Homo sapiens: one gene and its partners. The protein of the gene in region 3 interacts with the protein of the main gene of each other region in a pairwise test. Each region holds a gene or a part of one and is shown on either strand. Other genes may lie near its edges. The genes, in order: SFT2D1, DGAT2L6 and TMEM255B.

Region 1 (7,117 bases), on a different chromosome or scaffold from region 3:
GTTACTATCTGTGTTTTCTGGCCCTCTCTATTGGTTTTACACCTTGCTACTCGGCAGCACACTTGCCTCACCACTGCAGACTCACAGCGCACCCCTGCAGCAGCATGGTGGAGAGCACAGCCCCTGAGCCAGGGCCCTTCACCACACCGGGCACTGTCAGATTTGCCAACCAGGCCCACAAGCAGGTGAGCTCGGGCACACATGTGTGTTTATTAATGACCTCTACGCTGTAGACAGCAGAATCTATGGCACATTTAGCCACCAGCTGGGTAGGTGAGCATGTGTGCACATGTGTGTTTACTGACTACCTCTATGCTGCAGACAGTAGAATCTATGGCACATTTAGCCACCAGCTGGGTGGGTGAGCATGTGTGCACATGTGTGTTCACTGACTACCTCTATGCTGTAGACAGTAGAATCTATGGCATTTTTAGCAACTAGCTGGATGGTAACATGTCAAATTTTAGGAACACCTAATCTTTAGAGAGTTTTAAAAAAACAGATGAGCTATTTTAAGATAATGGTGTGATGACACGTCAGCTGGGGTGGGGGGCACACAGTTAACTGAAAGCCAGTAGGGCTGACATAACTTACCCAAAGAGCAGCACACAGGGTAAATATGAAACACAACTACAGGGGAAGAAAGAGTAGATTATAAGTTTGAGATCCTTTCAAAAGCCTAATAAAAATGCATAAACTATTCTGCATTCATTTACATAGGGAATATACTATAGAACAAAAATAAGAATACAGCTGAATAGTTTTACTTGTATTTTCTGTAAGTATTATTTTACTTTAAAGTCTATGACTGCAATATTCCTTGGCAAATTGGAAGCATCTAATAATTTAATCTGTTAAGTAAACTGAAAGATGATCATTCCACATCCCCATGAAAGCAAGCAGGCACAGGAGTGAATGCAAGAGGTGGGCAGTGTGGTGTTGGAAAGACCTAAAGAGATCCCAGCTCTGACGCCTGCTATCTGAGGGTCCTTGGTGAAGTCAGTGGACTCGTCTAAACCTGTTGTCTTCTCTTTAAAATGAGGAGAGTTCCTACCTACCTGCTTTAAAGGGCTGTTGTAATGAATAAGGTAGAGTGCATCCGTGATGGGCTTGAGCTAGAAGCTGGCATGTGGAAGGCTCTATGTGGCACAGCCTCTTCACCACCATTACTAGGCGTGATCTTACGTGGGCAGCAAATCAAACCACGCAAAGTGCTCCACCTTGGGAGACGTCTTATATGTTCAAACGTTCCCACGTTCTCTCAACATGTGTGTTTTTGTAAGGTACAGTATGTTACTAAAAAGTTTGAGGGGTAAGTGCCAGGATTTCTTAAATAAAACTAACTAAAATCTTAGTGGAATATAAACTACTTATATTCTAACAGTGAAATATACTTTGTTAGTAATCTGAAGTTAAATGTTTATATATATGTTGATACATATGCTATTATAGGAAATTCAAAATAATTGGAGATTATAAAAGTGGTAAGAAACTATGAAGTTGAATAAAGACATAATAAATAAAGCTAAAAATGAGTTTTTACTCTAGTGAGGAGATGGGAGAAGACTGCCAGGCAGATTAGAGTTAACAAACATTTCCTTATAAATTAACATAGGTTAGCTGTGTTTGGAAAGCTAATGTTAATAGTTATAATGGTAACATTTAAATTCTTTAAATATCATAAATGCTTGAAGGCAAAAGAAATCCACAAGAGACACAGACCAGGTGAGTTAGGAGGCAGAGGCAGGATGCAGAAGAGATTTGGGTCCCCCTCCTGCCCACAATACACAAAACGATGATCAGCTGAACACCCAGCACGTATGAGAATGGAAACAACCTTACTAGCCAAAGTGTAAGCTCTCATCTACCCGCCACCCAGGCTCAAGATAATAAGAGTGATGACCTGAGAGTTGTGGACAGAACCCACAATGTAATGGAAGGCACCTTTAAAGATACTGTTACGGGAGCCATATTGTTAGAATTTGTCAAGTTGGCACACAGAGAAGGGACAAAAGTCAGATGACAAATGATGCTAAATCTCACCCTCAGCATAGAGGGTGTCTATGCCCACCCTCTAAAGGGTACAAACTAACAATCCCTCATGAAACCATCAGCAGGGCTTAAAAATGAAAGCACACTCAGCTCTAGGCTCCATTTAAATACGCAGCTACACCATGCCATATACGCAGCAGAAGCAGGCTTTACCCAGCCAGTAGTCTTAGACAATACTGTACCATCTGAACTCTATAACCACATAGGATATATTTTTTTTTTGGTTTTTAGATGGAGCTTCACTCTTGTTGGCCAGTCTGGAGTGCAATGGTGTGATCTTGGCTCACTGCAACCTCCACCTCCCAGGTTCAAGTGATTCTGTCTCAGCCTCCCAAGTAGCTGGGATTACAGGTGCATGCCACCTCACCGGGCTAATTTTTGTATTTTTAGTAGAGACGGGGTTTCATTATATTGGTCAGGCTGGTCTTGAACTCCTGCCATCAGGTGATCCGCCCACCTTGGCCCCCCAAAGTGCTGGGATTACAGACGTGAGCCACCGTGCCCGGCCGGATATAATTATTATATTCAACACAAGAAGTATACATACAACCCTGAAACTTAAAGTATAATAATAAAAAAAAATAAAAATAAAAAAAGAAGTATACATACATAACAGGCAATTATTCGTAAAATAACAGTGCAAAGAATACTTCAATAAAAGTTTTAAAAATGTATTATTTACTTACAAGCATAACAATTGTTGCAAGCAATCTTGTTGCTTCAAACATTTTCTTCAGTTGCTTCACAGGTCCCATTAAAAAGCATGTACTATTTGAAACAAATAAAGTGACTGAGGTACAGGTCTACTAATTTATCTGGTTATGCAAAAATAAACTACTTTTTTAAAAAAGAAGCCCTGTTGCTTTATTTAATTAAAATCTCTCACTAAAATTTTTTTTTTCCTTAACTTTATAAAGAAACTTTACAACTATACCAATAGACATGCTATGGTGTGAAGGTGTCTTCTCCAAAATGTAAGTGTCTTCAGTGTGTTAGTATGAAGACCGGACTAGGCTGTGAGAACTCCTCCCTTTGAAAGGGATCAAAGGCCCTTGGAGGAGAGGCTGCCTGGGGGTTGCTCTTTCCTCTTCTGCCCTGGGAGGACACAGGGATCTTCCCCTTGGGGGATGCATCTATCAGCAGGATGGATGTGCCTTAACCTTGGACTTCAGGCCTCCAACTGTGAGAAAAATTTCTATTCTTCCTAAGTCGCCCAGTCTACAGTATTCTGTTACTGCAGCATAAAAAGGGCTAAGACAAACAACAACCCAAAGATGCGACAAAGATTCTCAAAGAGGGATTCTCATACTCCCAATATAAAGTAGCCCTCTGTCACTACTGCCACACCCTGTTTTAATTCTCTGCACAGCACCAATGCCATCCCATCTTTTTCTGGCTTATCATGTGAACATCTTCTTCATTAAAATGTAAGCTCCACAAGAACAAAGCCTAGAGTGCAGCAGCTCCAAGCCTGGGCTCCGGATTCCCACCTCAGCCATGGTGGGATCCCACCTCCGGATTCCCACTGCCTGCAGGATTCCCACCTCAGCCATGATTTAGGTTCATCGCCATGGGCAGCACTGACTCCCCTGCTCTGTGCTATTATCTCCAGTTATAAACGGGGATGATAATACTGCCTACCTCACAAGCTCGTCATAATACATACAAAACACTTAGAACAGTCCCAGACACACATTAAGTGCCCCACAAAGGCTGGCTATTCCTAGCACTAATACCGTCTGTTATGGGAGACGGCATACAGCAGCAGTCAATACATATTTATTTAATGAATGTAAATCCTGTGGCTGAATTCACAGTATGTACAGAACTACATAAACATCCTACTGGGAAAGTGCTTATTAGAAAGGTAAATTTGGTAGCAAGAGCAAACAAGATATTTTGAGAAGCCAAACGTACCTGGCTAACGCAGCAAGATTGCCGAGGGTATAAAACACTGCAAAAAGCTTTATGCCGCCCGGAAGCCACAGCAATCCAGTTCCCTAAGTTAAGATATTATAGTTATTTTAAAATAATTTTATGATTTTAATGGTTAAAATATAAACGTGCTACTGCAGTAATACAATACCAATATTATGTAATATGTTTAAATACAAATCTGCTTGTAGACAGTCTAGTCTGATTACACAGAAAAAATAGTTAATTTTCAATGTTATACACTAACTTGAATCTTCTTCCTATTTGCACTAGCATATATAAATGAGCCATAACAAAACTTTGTGCTTACCAGTAAATCTCAGTCTATTTAAGTTAAATTTTCATGCTAAATACCAAGTATGAAAAGGTAATAAACATCTAAATTACTGACTCTCCAGATCTTTTAACACATTGATACATTTTTCTTAAATTATTTCAACTATCCACAAAACTCCCCAAAATACTAATTTCTACGTATTTTCATTGATCTCTACCCCTTTATTTTAGTTTAATAAATACCTTCCACCAAAATGGTCTAACAGGGATTTAGTAAAGGACATTAGTTTTTGGTACTAAATGGAATTATTAGTCTAATACAAAATAAAAATTATTAAACAATATAAAGCCTTAACTCACAAGAATAGAAAAGAAAACGCCACATACGAAGCAGATGGCAAACCATTTCAATCTGGTGTTGAAACTAAGGGATGAGGCATCCAGGACCTTAATAAAAAATGGGAAAATTTAGAATATAGTCTTAATTCACTACCAATCTGATTCTTTATACTAAATTAAAGCAAAGTTTTAACACATAGTCTGAATCATTTATTTTGCATATCACAGTGTCATTCAAGAATACTAAGATTCCACGGTTGTTAAGGGTAATATGACCATGGTCTGGGTAGCAGATGATGCTGAGGAATAACCATTAATTTTGCAAAGTCTGATAATATGTTTCACAAAAGTCCTTATCTGTTAGGGACAGCCGATATACACTGATATGGATAAAATGACATATAAGATATATTATAAAATATACAAAGATTAAAAAAACACAGGGGGCAGATGCAACAGGCCAGGCAAAACACTGAAACTGCAGAGGCTGGGAAAGAGTACACAGGTTCATTATCTGTTCTCTCTGCCTCTGCAGGACGAATTCCTCAGGCTCCTAGATGCCAGAGTCTGAGTGCATCCGAGTGCATCCGCACTCAGTGCAAGTCCTGCTGGAGGCAGAGGCTGGCCTTCCACACGCCACCTCCCTTCGGCCGGTCATTGGCTGCAGGCCAGGGGTGGGGTGGGGTGACTGCACCCCATGGAGGGTAGAGGACGCTGGCCACCTACAGGAGGCAGCCTGAGCAGCCCCAGCAGAGACGATCACAGCACGCACCAGACGGTACCCGTTCTAAGCTCTTTCAGTCCAACCCATGAAAGTTTTGGGCCCCTCCTCCACCACTGTAAAAACATACTGTGAAATGATCATTTATTCTAGAGCAACAGCATTCCTATATACCATGCAAATTCTAGCCAAATTATGTGGGGAAAAAAGTAGAAATTACTAAGTCTACTTTGTACAGTATGATAACCCAGCACACAGTAGTGGTGAAATAAACACACTCAGATTACTAATTATACTATTAAAATATATTTTCCAAATAAGGCTAAAAAAGTATCTATCAACAGCAGCTGTGCAAGAAACTAGAAATATACAGCAAGGATTTATATTCCAAAACTTAAATTTCTAATTTATACTACCACATCCACTTAAAAATAAGACTACATGCTTATATTTTCAAGAATAATGAAAAATAAGAGAAAGTTCTATATGCAACAGTTCAAAATACATTTGGTTACATTCCTTACCTCAAGAGATTAATCTGTGAATCCTTATGTAGCATGAAAAGCAGATAAAAATAACTAAGTATTCTGTAATGAAACATATATCACTCTTTAACACATTTTAAATGTTTTTTAAGTTTTAATTCACATTCTTGTTTCCAGCAATGTCATCTGTTTATGGCAAAACTAAACACTTGGTTTTAAACAAAGAGTGAAATTGCCTATAAAAACATCTACATTTCATTCTTACTGATCAGGAAGAATATACACTAAGTATATTTTAACTACGCAGGCCAGAATAAACTGCAAAGACTGAATTACATAGTAAATGATCTGTTAAAAAAAATGGAGACACGCCCATCAGCTTCATTTAACCATCCCACAAAGTATACATAGGTCAAAACATCACGCTGTACACAATAAATGTATATAACTTTTATTTGTCAATTAAAAATGGAAAGAATAATGATTTCTAAAGGTTCGTGTGAGTCCACAATGCTGTGAGGATTTAGTGAGAGGAAAAAGCATCCATTTTTCCTTCTTTTCCAAGTTCAAATCACCCCATTGTTCACAAGTTCAATCGCTGCTTTTCAATAGCCAGTTTTTCTCTCAGCAAGGAAACAGCACGGCTATTTGTATAATAGTAGGTATTTTTTCCTCCTATTGCCATCTTCCGTGTATTGATCTTTAAAACGAAACAGCAGGACAAATTATTTCCACTTGTAAACATGGAATATTCAATCCACAAGCAAATGATTTGTCTCAAGTCTTGCAAATTGTCTAGGATACGAAACAACTATACAGATTTCCTGACTCCTAATTGGGAAAACTGTGATATGCTTCAACATGAAAGAAAACCTGGCAGTGCATCTTCCAACTAGGAGACAGAAGGAACCCTGACGTCTGCTTATCACAAGCATTTTTTTGAGACAGAGTCTCACTCTGTTGCTCAGGCGCCATCTCAGCTCAATGCAACCTCCGCCTCCCAGGTTCAAGTGATTCTCCTACCTCAGTCTCCCAATTAGCTGGGACTACAGGTCCACGCCACCAGGCCTGACTAATTTTTTGTATTTTTAGTAGAAACGGGGTTTCACTATGTTGGCCAGGCTGGTCTCAAACTCCTGACCTCAAGTGATCACCCGCCTCGGTCTCCCAAAGTGCTGGATTACAGGCATGAGCCACGAGCCACTGCACCCAGCCTGCTTATCATAAGCATTTATGTGCTGCTTTCTTTTACCACCAATCAGGAGCAATCCCACCAAAACCAGCAACTTTGTTAATCTCTTAGTCTTAG
Region 2 (4,839 bases), on a different chromosome or scaffold from region 3:
CATGGGGCCTCATTTAGGAAAATGAAGCTGAAAAGTGGGTCTCCAGAAAATGAGGAATGGGGACATAGAGTGGTGCATTGGAGAGAACTCTGGTTTGAATGCTAGTTCTATCCAAAGTTGTGTGGCTTTGGGCAAGCTACTAACCCTCTAGGAGCTTTAGCTACTGTGAAATGGAGGTGATGACAATCTCAATCTCACTGGGCTTATGTTTAGTATTGAGAGACAATGGTTATGAAAGCAATGTCATGGTCCCTGGAACATAGAAGGGACTTGACATCAAGCAAACTTACAGTTGGTGCATGGTCTTGTGGCTCCCTCCCTTCTGACATAGGATGGTTATGTGGGATCAGGAGAGGTGGGCTACACAGCGGGTACCTGTGCCAGTTCCCATGTTTCTGCTCCTGTCTCTTACACTTTGCAGCAGCTATGGTTCCATTCCCCCACCTTTTCTGTCCGGGGAAGTATGAAGGGTAAATAAAGAAGAGGAAAAGGGCTCTCCATAGAGCAGCTTTCTGGCCAGAAGGGAAAATCTTAGGTTTGAGGGAAGCCCAATAGCGAACCACAGAATAATCAGGAAATAGTGGTATCCTGTTTTATATGTCTAGAACTTTATTTTCAAAGAAGAAACAATGTAACTGCATTGCCAATCTAGAACTCTATCACAACTGACGGAATCCTGTCTGCTTGGACCAGGCAGCTACAGTTCAGGTCCCTGGTTTACCTTGTGGCAGTTCCCAAGTTGTAAGGAAAGGACCAAGAGGAAACAAACTATCCCTGTTCCAAATAAAGCTTCTAAGTCTAAACCTACGTAGTGATGGTGAACTAAGGTTTAGGAGAAAGGGGCACAGTATTCTTTGTGATCAGAGAGTTGGCTGGAATGATTCATAAGACTCCCCAACTGGGTTGTTGCCCTAAAATAACCAGGGGTGATACAGCCAACTCCTCTGGCTAGCCAGCCCTCCCCAGTCCTCCCCTGCCCCTCTGGTTCTTTCCCCTAAGCCTGCCTCAGCCACTTGGGAGAGGACTCTATTGCTAGAACTCTGATTTATTAAATAATTTCTGGCTTGGATGGTCTCCTCTCTCATCCTTACGATCTTTCCCTCTCCTGGAATTCTTCTTTTTCTGTGGCTCTACTTGGATCCCTCATGGCTTTGGGGGTTGATCAATGGGGAATGTGGCTCCTGTTATGTAATTGTCAGCTCTTGGGTCTCAGGGAGGCCATATTCAACTTTGTGTTGGTCAAAGAGCTTGCGCAGGGCACTGATGTAGAGTGCGTGATACTTGTCTACTGTCTTCTGGTTTGGCCTCTTAATCCTGGGAATTGGAAGGGGTTCCCCAACTATGAAAAAAGAAAAGAGACAAACATCAGAGTTCCCCCCTCAACTCAAACTACTCATCCCTCACTGGGAGCCATGTACTGAAACTCAGTATCTGGCTTTCCTCCCCTTCTTTCTTTCTTTCCCTTTGCTCCAGTCTCATCCTGGCCCCTGTTCTCTGATCATCTAATCAAACCCATGCTCAAGAGAATGCAAGCAAGCTCAGGAGAGTGGTGACAGAATGTGTGCGAATGGTGATGCTCTTGTAGCAGATGCTGATGTCACATCCATGAATGGCCACAACTCTTATCTGTTTAGTTGTCCTACCCACCCTGCTCTTAACCACACCCATTGCCCATCCCAGATGTGAGTTGGGTCCCCCTGGACTTGATGGATGATTTAAAGTGGGTGGGAAGTGAATGAAGAAACAGGTCATCCGGAGATAAGGGAAAGCTCACCAACAGTGGTAATGGGCCGATTGAAAGGCAGGAAGCCCCAGGATCCGCGAGTGAAGCCCCGGCCATGGAAGGTACAGAAATTTAGTCCCAGGATTTTTTTGAATGTGTCCTGGAAGGTTTTTTGGAACAACCTTAACCACGTGCCCTCAGGGAAGGTCTCCTGATTGAAAACTTCGTTCTCACCAAAGGAATATGAAGGGACAAGGTATGCCCTGCAAAGAGAGGGGCAGGAGTGTGAGCTCTCTGAGGAAGATCCCCGGAAAAATCCTCTCCAAGGTGGGAAACCTCTCCAACCTCCCCATTATAGGACAAGAACCCAAGCACCCAAACATCTCCATCTTCATGTCCCATTCCTGCCATGCCTCACTCTCCCAACTGAACTCTGAAGGGAGCTGCTGCTCTGCCTTGTCCTGTTATAGGGAGAAACTAATCTCAAAAGCTCTGTCTTCATTGCATCCAGCATGCAGAGTGTTCTTCGTAAACTGCATATCTGGACATGCCACTCCTCTCAAACTCTTCCAGAGCTCCTCAGTTTGCACCATGCTGCTTCCTTACGGCCTTTTTGCTCTAGCCTTCCCTCCTTGGCTAGCTTTCCCTTTCCCCACTCTTTCCTTGCAATCTGCTTAGCCATATTAAGTGTGCCTCATACTCTCTCATCTCTGTGTCTTTGTACATTCTGCTCCCTCTGTCGGAAGTATCTTCCTTCTTCCCTCTGTCTTTATGTGGCTCATTCAATTTTGCACTCAGTCCCAATCTCATCCCCTTAAAGCAACTTTGTTTGACCACTTCATTTCCCCCAACGCGGATTAGGTACCCCTCATCTAGTGCTTACCTCTCTTCTACACTAACGCTGCCCCAACCGTGTATTATAGTCATCTCCTTACTTGCCTGACTCCCCCAGTAGACAGCAAGCCAATCAAAGGCAAGAACTGGGTCATATTCATCTTTGAATCCCTAGGCCCTGGCATAGCACTTGACATGCCATAGGTCCTCACTGAATGCCTGAGTTCTTTCTCCCTTTTGGTCTGCCTGGCAACTCCTACCAATATTTCAATTCACAGTTCAGATGTTACCCACCTATGAAACCTCTATTCTGGGTCAAGATCTTTCCATAAATTGGTGCTCACGTGGCACTTTGTACACATTTCCATTGTAGTGTTCCATTTATTTAACAAATATTAAGCTCTTTCTATGTGCCAGCACTGTTTTAGGCCCTGGAGATGCATCAGTGAATACAATGGATTTTTAAAAATTCTGTGTTCGTGGAGTTTACTTTTTCTGGGAGGAAGACAGACAATAAACATTGAAAATAGTTGGTAAACAAATAAATAAAATGGATGAGCTATAAGAAGATAAGTGTAACCGGCAAAAAATAGAGCAAGATGGTCAGATAACTGTATTGAGAAGAGACATTTGAGCAAAGACTTGAAGGAGATAAAGGAATGAGCCAAGCAGTCATTTGGAGGAATAGTGTTCCAAGGGAACCGCTAAAGCAAAGACTCTAAAGCAGGAGCGGGTGGCCTGCTTGAGGGACCGCAAAGAGGCCGGTATAGCTATGATGGAGTGAGAGAGTGGGAAGAGAAGTGAGTGATGAGGACAGAGAGGCAGCTATAGACCAGATTATTCCGCGTCTTGCAAGCCCCTATAAAGACTTTGGCTTTTACTCTGAGTGACATGGGAGCCATTGGATTATTTTGAGAAGTGACATGATCTGACTCATGTTTAACAGGATCATCCTGGCTGAAGCTGGGAATAGACTCTTGGGGTGGGGGAGGTGGGAATAGATACAGGAAGAGCAGTTAGAAGTGTTGTAATCAACCAAGGGGAGAGATGGTGGTAGTAAACCAAGGGGTGGTAGCCTAGGTAGTAAGTGGTTGGATTCTGCAGGTATTTGGTAATTATATGTGCATGGGTCTGTCTTCTTCCATATTGGACTGTGAGTTTGCAAGGACCAGGTCTTATTTACTTTTATATCCTAAATGCCTAGTACTATGCCTGATATACAGTGGGTGTTCCGTAACTGCTGAATGAATAAGGTCTATTTCTCAAACCAGATTGTATGCTCTTTGGGGTCATGTCTTATCTTTTTGATCCTCACGGTATCAAAGCTAGTGCCTCCCTTGCAGTTGGTAGATTCTTAGGGCCTCTCAGTTAACAGGTTGATATAGAGTGAAGCCCCGCTTTCCCAGACCTCCAGCCTACCAGGCCAATGGGCAGAAAGTAAAAGGTTTTCTTCTGCTGTTCTTTCTCCAACTTCAAGTAAGAAAAGTGCCCACTGAAATGTATCTGGAGGCCCAAACATCCCTAAGGCACAATGTGAGGGGGTAGACAGAAGGAATTAGAGTGAAGATGGGGGCCCTCTAACAGGTGCCCAGGGAGGGCACCATTCTGGAGAGGGCTACAGAGGGCCTATGGCACCCTGACAACAGAGCACTAGAACCTTGGAACCCACCCTGTTTGCAGTGCCATCTTCACAAAACCTTTACGCTGCTTGAGGAAGAGAGTGGAGGCTCCTGGTCGGCACAAGAGAGCTTCAGCAGCTCCACCCACCACAATAACCACGGCATTGCCTGAGCCTTTCTGGGTCAGCAAGTACTTCAAGGCTGAGCTACTCACAGGGCACACACCTGTGAAACCAAAGAGTCAAGTGGTAGAAAAACTTCATTCCTGAGGATGGGGTAAGGGGTTTTCCCAGGCTCTTCCTTTTGGAGACAGTTCTTCTGTTTTCTGACTATTGCTGTTTCCACCTTTCTGTCTCTGACCTTCGTGTCCCGGGTTATGACTGCCCTAGCCTAAGATTGGTCCTTAGGGTCAGCTGTTTGCCTTGGGGGTCTGTGCTTCTGCAGTTGGGTCTATACTGAGCTCCTCTGCCTCCTACCATCCATAGCCTACTGCATTTCAGATCAATAGTATCTAAGCCCACCTCATCCCTCTCTACCCATGAAGCACAGCCATCTTCCACTCTGCCCAGCCTGACAACACTGGAGATCCTCCAGAGTTCTCTCCTCCAGGGGTAATCGAGACTAGCCACCACCAACCTGCTTCCTCCCTAAGAGTAACCTGCC
Region 3 (7,627 bases):
GCCACTGAGTTATGGGGTCATTTGTCCCACAGTTGTAGTAACCGGAATGACCTCCAAGGACCTGTCCCACTGTAAAGATTGGCAATCCTATGACTTCTGTCTCCTGGACTCCTCCCAAGCCTGAATCCCTTCCCGGACGCTCACAGGTCGCAGCGTATCTTGGGTAACCCCATCCACTGCCCCCATCAAGCCAGCCCCCGACCTGTCTCCTGTTTCCCGGAGCTTGCTCAGAGATAACAGATTCATCCGATCCTCCAGGAAGGGCCCGAGCGGCCTGGCTCCCTGCCCTCCAGCTCTTAGCTCTGTGTGTCTCTCCTTGCGGGAGCCCTCCCTGCGACACCTCCCGCTGCCTCTCAGCGCTGAGCTTAACACGGTGGCATCACCTGGGAGGGCTCAGTCTTTCTGTCTCTTCTCCATCAGCCTCTGAGCTCCATCAGGGCCCCAGGTCAGTGATCACTCCTGTGCTTCCACAGCCCAGCGCCAAGCCCAGCCCTGCTCTGGGCCTGGACAATGCTCAGGACAGGACAGTGTGGGAGTCAGCCCCTGGCCCTGACCCTGGCTCTCGGAGCCAGCGCTGTTGCTTCCCTACCTCACTGGATGTTGCAGGAATGGGTTAGAGATCTGAGGACCACGGAAAGTTAGGGGTGAGGGGAGGATGAACCAGTCATGGGGAACCCCGGTATCTCTGAGTGAGTAGAGAAGGAAGGTGGTGCTGGCGGGAAGGAAGGACAGGTGCTGGCTGTGGGTTCCAGCCACTTCCGAGGTGCAGGCCTGGGGAGAGGAGGCAGGTGGGGCCTGCTCAGGGAGCCCCTGAAGAAGTTCTGAGTTGGCTGTGCTCCAGTTGGCCCCTGCACATTCCCCATGCCAGGCAGGCGCTTTTTCTCCTCTTTAAAAAGGCATTCCCTGAGCCTGGTGGAATGAGACAAACATGGAAATCCCTGGGCTGCTCTCAGTGGTGGAAGAGGTTGGGCACCCTGGCGGCTTAGGGTGGGACTCGGCCTGCAGAGCCAAGCAGGCGCCCTTTTTCCTCCTTTTCTTTTCCTTTCGTCCATTTAATTTTTAAAATATAACAGACTGTGGCCGGGCACAGTAGCTCTCGTCTGTAATCCCAGCACTTTGGGAGGCCCAGATGGGAGGATCACTTGAGCCCAGGGGTTTGACATCAGCCTGGGCAACATGAGGAAACCCCATCTCTACAAAAAGTATAAACCTTAGCTGGGTGTTGCAGCACACGCCTGTGGTCCTAGCTACTTGGGAGGCTGAGGTGAGAGGATCGCTTGAGCCTGGGAGGTGGAGACTGCAGTAAGCTATGATCATGCCACTGCACTCCAGCCTGGGCCACAGAGCCACAGCATGTCTCAAAAAACAAAAAAGTGACAGACTGCAAACAAAGGCACACCTGGGTAGAGGATGCACAGGAGCTCCTTGCACTATCCCTGCAAACCACCTTTAGGTTTGAAAATAGATAAAAATAAAAAGTTACAAAAAAGTAATCATCTATTTTAAACATCCAGAAAAGTATAGAGAATAATATAACATCCCTGTCCACACCATCTAGCCTTAATGGTATCTCAACATTCCCCCTTTTTTTACAAGTCTTTTAACTTTTTTAAAGAAAGAAGATTTCACAAATAGAGTTTAAGCCCCTAGACATAGTTCCAAAGCTGTTCAGCTTGTCCACCCAGACAGAGAATCACAGTTCTGGATGAAGCATGCACTCTCCCCCAGCATGTTCTTCTACTTTACTTACACAGTATCCATGCATCTACACACATGACTCACGGTGTCCATGTATCTGCACACACATGACTCATGGTGTCCATGTATCTGCACACACAAGGCGGTGTCCATGTATCTGCACACGAGACTCACGTCCGTGTATCTGCACACATGAGTCACGGTGTCCATGTATCTGCACACACGAGACGGTGTCCATGTATCTGCACACGAGACTCACGTCCGTGTATCTGCACACATGACTCAACGTGTCCGTGTATCTGCACACAGGACTCACGGTGTCCGTGTATCTGCACACAGGACTCACGGTGTCCGTGTATCTGCAAACATGACTCATGGTGTCCGTGTAATCACCTCCTACTGTTTCATCATATCCTATAACCAGTTTCTCAGCTTCCATTCTGCTATCCTACAACTACTCTCCAGTAATCCTATGTGTAGGACCCTCCAATAACCCCCACATCACTCGGAGCAAAGGCCAGAGGCCCTGCGGCTCACCCCTGATGTCCTCCACCTGGTCCCCACAAGCCTCTGGCACCCTGGTCTCCTTGCTGCTCCCCCTGGGCCTGGATGGCTCCACCCCAGGGCCTTTGCATGGAGGTTCCTTTTCCTCAGACCCTCTGCCCCAGATGTCTGGGTGAGCAACCACCTCCACGCCCTCAAGCTTGGTCTTCAACATCACCTGTCAACAAGCTCTCTTTTCACTACTTAAAAACCACAGCTCCCTCCCTCTCCCACACTATACTTTCTATTTTGTTTCTTTACCTCTCTTTCCTTTTTCTGTGGCCTGCATTACCTGGCTGTGTATGTATGTATGTGTGTATGTGTGTGTATGTATAAGTGTGTATGTGTGTGTATGTGCATGTGTGTGCATGTATGTGTGCATGTGTATGTGTGTGCATGTGTGTATGCATGCATGTGTGTATGTATATGTGCATATGTGCATGTATGCACGTATAAGTGTGTATGTATGCATGTGTGTATGTATGTGTATGTATGTGTGCGTGTATGTATGCACACATGTATGCATGTGTGTATGTGCATGTATGTATGCGTGCATGTATGTATGCACACATGCATGCATGTGTGTATGTATGCATGTGTATATATGCATGTGTGTGTATGTGTGTATGTGCATGCATGTGTGTATGTCTGCATGTGTGTATGTGTATATGTGTGTGTGTATTCCATAGCATGTTGCCCTCTGACATGCTGTGCATTTTTCTTGTTTATTGTATTATTATTCATGGCCTCACTTCCCCACCAGGATCCTTGTTTACGTTGCTCATTGATACATCCCAAGTACCTGGAACAGTGTCTGGTATATCGCGGATGTTTAGTAAGTCTTGAGAGGCTCACTGAGTGAACAGTGTTAATTTTCATGGTTTAAAACTTTATATAAATGGTACCATACTCGCTGCCGTACTTGCTGTCGTACTCGCTGCCGTACTGTGCACTTGCATTTTTGCTCCGCGTTCTGTTTTTGGCATTTATCCACATTGATCCATGTAGCTCTCATTTATTTTAACTGCCATGTGGTATTTCGCTGTATATGCCCATTTCTTTATCGCTTCTCCCCGTGTTGGATATTCAGGGTGTGTCCGGTGCTTTGGACACACAGTGTTGTGAGGAATATTCTGTACGCATCTTCTAGCACATGCATACTTCTTGTGGTAGTTTCTCTCTCACAGTGGATGGCCTATTAGAATGACTAGGGAATTCTTAGCTATTAGTTTGTTCCCAGAAGTTCTGGTTCAATTGATCTGGTCTGGGTTCAGTGCTGCAGAAATGTTTTTTCTTTTAAAGACATTCCTGGATGACTTTAACGACAGCCGGGGTTGAGAACCACGGCTCCTGGCTCGAAGGAGCAGATCTATGTTTGTGTTCTTGGGCATATCTAGAAAGAGATATGCTTTCTTTCTGGCTTGTCATCTACTTGCTTCAATTTTCCTAAAGGTTGCTTTCAAAGTGGTGGCACCATGCGTGATCCCAGCGGTGAATGCAGATTCCCACGTTTTCATTAACATTCTTTAAGTTGTTTGACCCTTGGGGTTTTCTGATAGGATGAGGGTGAAACGCATCCTCTTGTTCCCACAGCGTTCCCCTAATTCCGGGGGCTGAGTTTATTGATCGTTCAAGCATCTTCTTTTGTGACGGGACCGCTGATGTCCTTGACTCAAAGATGTTAAAAATACGTTTAGAAGGATCTTTATTTTTTCCTGCTGCTGTACGAGGCACCCTTTCTGGCCCCGTGTTTCCTTGCCCTTCTTTCCAGCAGCAGATTTTACTCAGAACAACTTCAGTGCTGTGGACACAAAGACGCAGGCCTTGGAGAGGCGGGTCAGCCCTGCCTCGGGGCTGCTGAGTGAGGTGCCAGATGCGTTTGTTCCTCATTTACTCATTTGCGTTTGTTCCTCATTTACTCGTTCCTCGCAGACTGGGTTGTAACACCATGTACCACCCTCTGAACCCAGAGATCAAGGGCTGGCTGGCCCTGTAGCCCCAAGGAGCTCCGTCACCGGCCAATGGGGAGGCGAACCCGTGGTGACCCACTCAGCGGCACCGCCAAGGGCTGAGCGTGGCGCCAGCGGCGGAAGGCCCGGGGTCACCGTCCCAGGCCGGGGCTCCGACCCCGAGTCCGCAGGGTCCTCTCCAGGCACCTTCCATCTGGGGTCTGGCTTCCACTCCCGGCCGCGGCGTCCTGATTTCCAGAAACCAGGCGGCCGCTGGAGGGGAGAAGGGGGAGCGGGCGCAGCGGGGGAGGGAGGAGAAGAAACGCCGGAGAAGGGAGAGTAGAGCGAGGAAGGACGCGAGGCGGGCGGAGCGCGGGGAGGTGCAGGGGGCGGGGAAGGGGCGGCGCCGCGAGGGCGGCTCCTGGCGGCGGGACTGTGGCTGTGGCCCCGGGAGAGCCGGGTGGGGCCTCGGGATGCAGCCGCCGGTGCCCGGGCCCCTGGGCCTGCTGGACCCCGCAGGTGAGCGCGGGGCTGGGGGCTCGTCTCGGCTCCTGCGGGGGAGCGTGGGGACCCCGGGGCTGGGACTACAGGTCCCCGGCCGGCCCGGGCGGAACCTGCGCGGAGACGCGGCACGGGGTCTGGTCCCTCCGCCTCCTTCGAGCTCTGTCTTTGGAACACTTTGCATTTCGCACTGGGGTCGGGCGTTCGTCCTACCGGTTCGTTCATTCATTCTCTCTCCCTGTCTCTCTCTCTGTCTCTGTCTCTGTCTCTCTCGCTCTTTCTGTCTCTGCCTCCTCAGTCTTTGCCTTTCTCTGACTCTGTGTCCGTTCCTCTTGGCCTCTCTCTCCCTGTTACGTTTTATTATGAGGAACAGGCGCCCCAAAGTGCGCTCCTTCCCCATCTCTTCCGTTTATTCCAACCTACACCATTTTCCGGGAAAACTTCGTTTGGAAGAGCGAGGTAGCCTTTTCCTGTTTGAACGTGCAGAGGCGCTCACAGAACTGGACAGTGTTGCTTGGTTTCGGCTCGCCCCTCTCTCGTGTTTCTCCCCGGTGTGTTCACGGAATCTCCAATTCTTCCACTTCCCAGACCAAGCCCGCTGCAGCCTCGGAGCCAGGCAAAGGCTGGGAAAACAGGAAACCTGTTGCGTGTTCACCAGTTCGCAAGCCGGGCTCGGGGGCTCTGCCGGGAAGTGGCCAGGACTGGAAGGATGCCGGGTGTCTTCCTGAGGGGGAGAGGGCTGGGCAGATTTCAGAACAAAAGAGAAACAGAGTTCCCTAGAAAGTGAAGCCCTGACGGCTGGAGGGAGGGATGGAGTGGTGTCTAGGGGGCTCTGCCGCTCCCTCAGAAATAATCCAACACAAACTTCTGGGGATTAACCTCACAACCCTTTTACTGCGGCATCGTTCGGAACCGGACGAATTACTGTTACTTAAAATAATCAAATAATTTGGCTTCTTTCTAAAAGAAACCACTATATGCCTTCCAATCTAAAGCAAAATGCTCTATGGTCAAATGTATTAATGTGGATTAGTCTATTGGTGTTTAATAATGATAACTATTATTATTATTTATTAACTAGTTTTATCATTATTAGAATGCCTTAATGTTTAAAAATAGCATCTGACTTAGATTTTCTTCTGACAAAGAACTTTAAACCTTAAAACAATACTTGGAGCTGGTCTTTTTAGTATATGAAACATTGGTGTATCTGGGTAGGATTATGGGTCTTTTTGTTTGGAGCTGGTCTTTTACTAAAATGTATAAAGCATTGGTGTGTCTGGGGTTGGATTATGGTCTTTCTGCTTTGGTGTGTCGGGGTGGATTATGGTCTTTCTGCTTTGGGGTATCTGGGGGTGGGTTATGGTCTTTCTGCTTTGGGGTATCTGGGGGTGGATTATGGTCTTTCTGCTTTGGGGTATCTGGGGGTGGATTATGGTCTTTCTGCTTTGGTGTGTCTGGGGGTGGATTATGGTCTTTCTGCTTTGGGGTATCGGGGGTGGGTTATGGTCTTTCTGCTTTGGGGTATCTGGGGGTGGATTATGGTCTTTCTGCTTTGGTGTGCCTGGGGGTGGATTATGGTCTTTCTGCTTTGGTGTGTCTGGGGGTGGGTTATGGTCTTTCTGCTTTGGTGTGTCTGGAGGTAGATTGTGGGTTTTTCTGCTTTGGGGTATCTGGGGGTGGACCATAGTCTTTCTGCTTTGGGGTACCTGGGGGTAGGATTATGGGTTTTTCTGCTTTGCCCTTCTTTGTTCACTACCCTGGGCATGTGTAAAATCAGGACGAAAGAGGAATTGACGGCTGAGTGATTACAGTTTTACCTGGGATTGTTACTTGGACACCATGACTGGTGTCCCCACATGATTAAATGGAACTCACTCTTCTTTTTGGGCGTTCCAGGTCCGGCTGGCAGGAAGGCCGGATCTTAGAACCCTTCCAAGCAGTGCCACCTCCCATGCTTTGTGACATTCCCCTTCCTGGCTCTGTGGAGTAGAGGAAATGGGTCTGAGGGGCAGGAAGAACCTGACCTCCAGCCTCGCGTGTCTTCCAGGTAGGACCTGGCGTGGGCACAGGCTCATGTGGTTCAGCTCCTCCAGCTAAGGCTGGGGAAGGAGCCAGGAAGGGGAGAGCAGGTGGGATGGGAGAAGTGGGGGCTGGTGGGGAGTGACAAGGTGATATTCTGAGATATCCTAGATGGGCTGCACCTGGGGAAGACTAGAATTAGAAAAATCAGCGCACTTGATAGCAGAGAGGTAGCTGTTGGCCCCTTCAGCTTCACATCTCAGAACTCCTCCTTGCAACTCCAGTGGGAGAAATGCTGGTTAAGAATAGCCGCTACGCCGTCTTAAAGTTCACACCACCCTGATGATTAGCATATGCATTCCATTTACAAAAACCTATATGAGAGCCCACGTATCGTGTCTCACTGGACGCTTATCACAATCTCAAGAGGTGGGTGAGCAGGTGGTTCTCATGATTTCCATCCTACAGGTCAGGAGACTGAAGTGCCTTCATTCATTCCGTACCAGGAGATGTGTCTATGTCCTCATCTGAGCCCCGGGAACCGGCGACAAACAAGAGACAGAGCTCTTGGCTCTCATAGGGTTCTCTTCTCCCAGGCTCAGGGAGATTAAATGGCCGCCCAAGACCACACAATGGGTCTGGACAGACCCAGAATGGTTTGGGTCCAGTCCCTGTAAGCTGCCTCTGCAATAGAAACCTATTGGTAGATATTTTAATTAATAGTTGGGGCACTTAGGAGCACTTTAATTTTCACAGTGCGTGTAATAACAGTATTTCCGGGACAGGAAAAAAAAAAAAATCAAGGAAATTATTCAGGTGATTTTAATTATCTTTCTCCTAAGTGAAAGCCCCTTTCTCTTGAAAATCTGACCTTATAATTATCTCTTATGCTAATTATAAAGATATCCCACCTT

Evidence for each region.
Region 1: the proteins of TMEM255B (region 3) and SFT2D1 interact in binary tests that used the Homo sapiens proteins (3 or more experiments, as listed by UniProt).
Region 2: the proteins of TMEM255B (region 3) and DGAT2L6 interact in binary tests that used the Homo sapiens proteins (3 or more experiments, as listed by UniProt).

Annotation. Positions count from the first base shown.
Region 1 is NC_000006.12:166,325,538-166,332,654, forward strand, and holds part of SFT2D1 (vesicle transport protein SFT2A), read right to left. Parts: intron 5,871-7,117; exon of another isoform or gene 5,848-5,870; intron 4,711-5,847; coding exon 4,624-4,710; intron 4,053-4,623; coding exon 3,970-4,052; intron 2,821-3,969; coding exon 2,739-2,820; intron 631-2,738; coding exon 595-630; intron 1-594. UniProt on the Homo sapiens protein: May be involved in fusion of retrograde transport vesicles derived from an endocytic compartment with the Golgi complex.
Region 2 is NC_000023.11:70,201,452-70,206,290, reverse strand, and holds the end of DGAT2L6 (diacylglycerol O-acyltransferase 2-like protein 6), read right to left. Parts: intron 4,402-4,839; coding exon 4,227-4,401; intron 1,987-4,226; coding exon 1,775-1,986; intron 1,340-1,774; coding exon 1,185-1,339; 3' UTR 587-1,184; downstream 1-586. UniProt on the Homo sapiens protein: Diglyceride acyltransferase that uses fatty acyl-CoA as substrate. Particularly active with oleate as a substrate. Has no wax synthase activity to produce wax esters.
Region 3 is NC_000013.11:113,754,607-113,762,233, forward strand, and holds the start of TMEM255B (transmembrane protein 255B), read left to right. Parts: upstream 1-4,619; 5' UTR 4,620-4,663; coding exon 4,664-4,709; intron 4,710-7,627.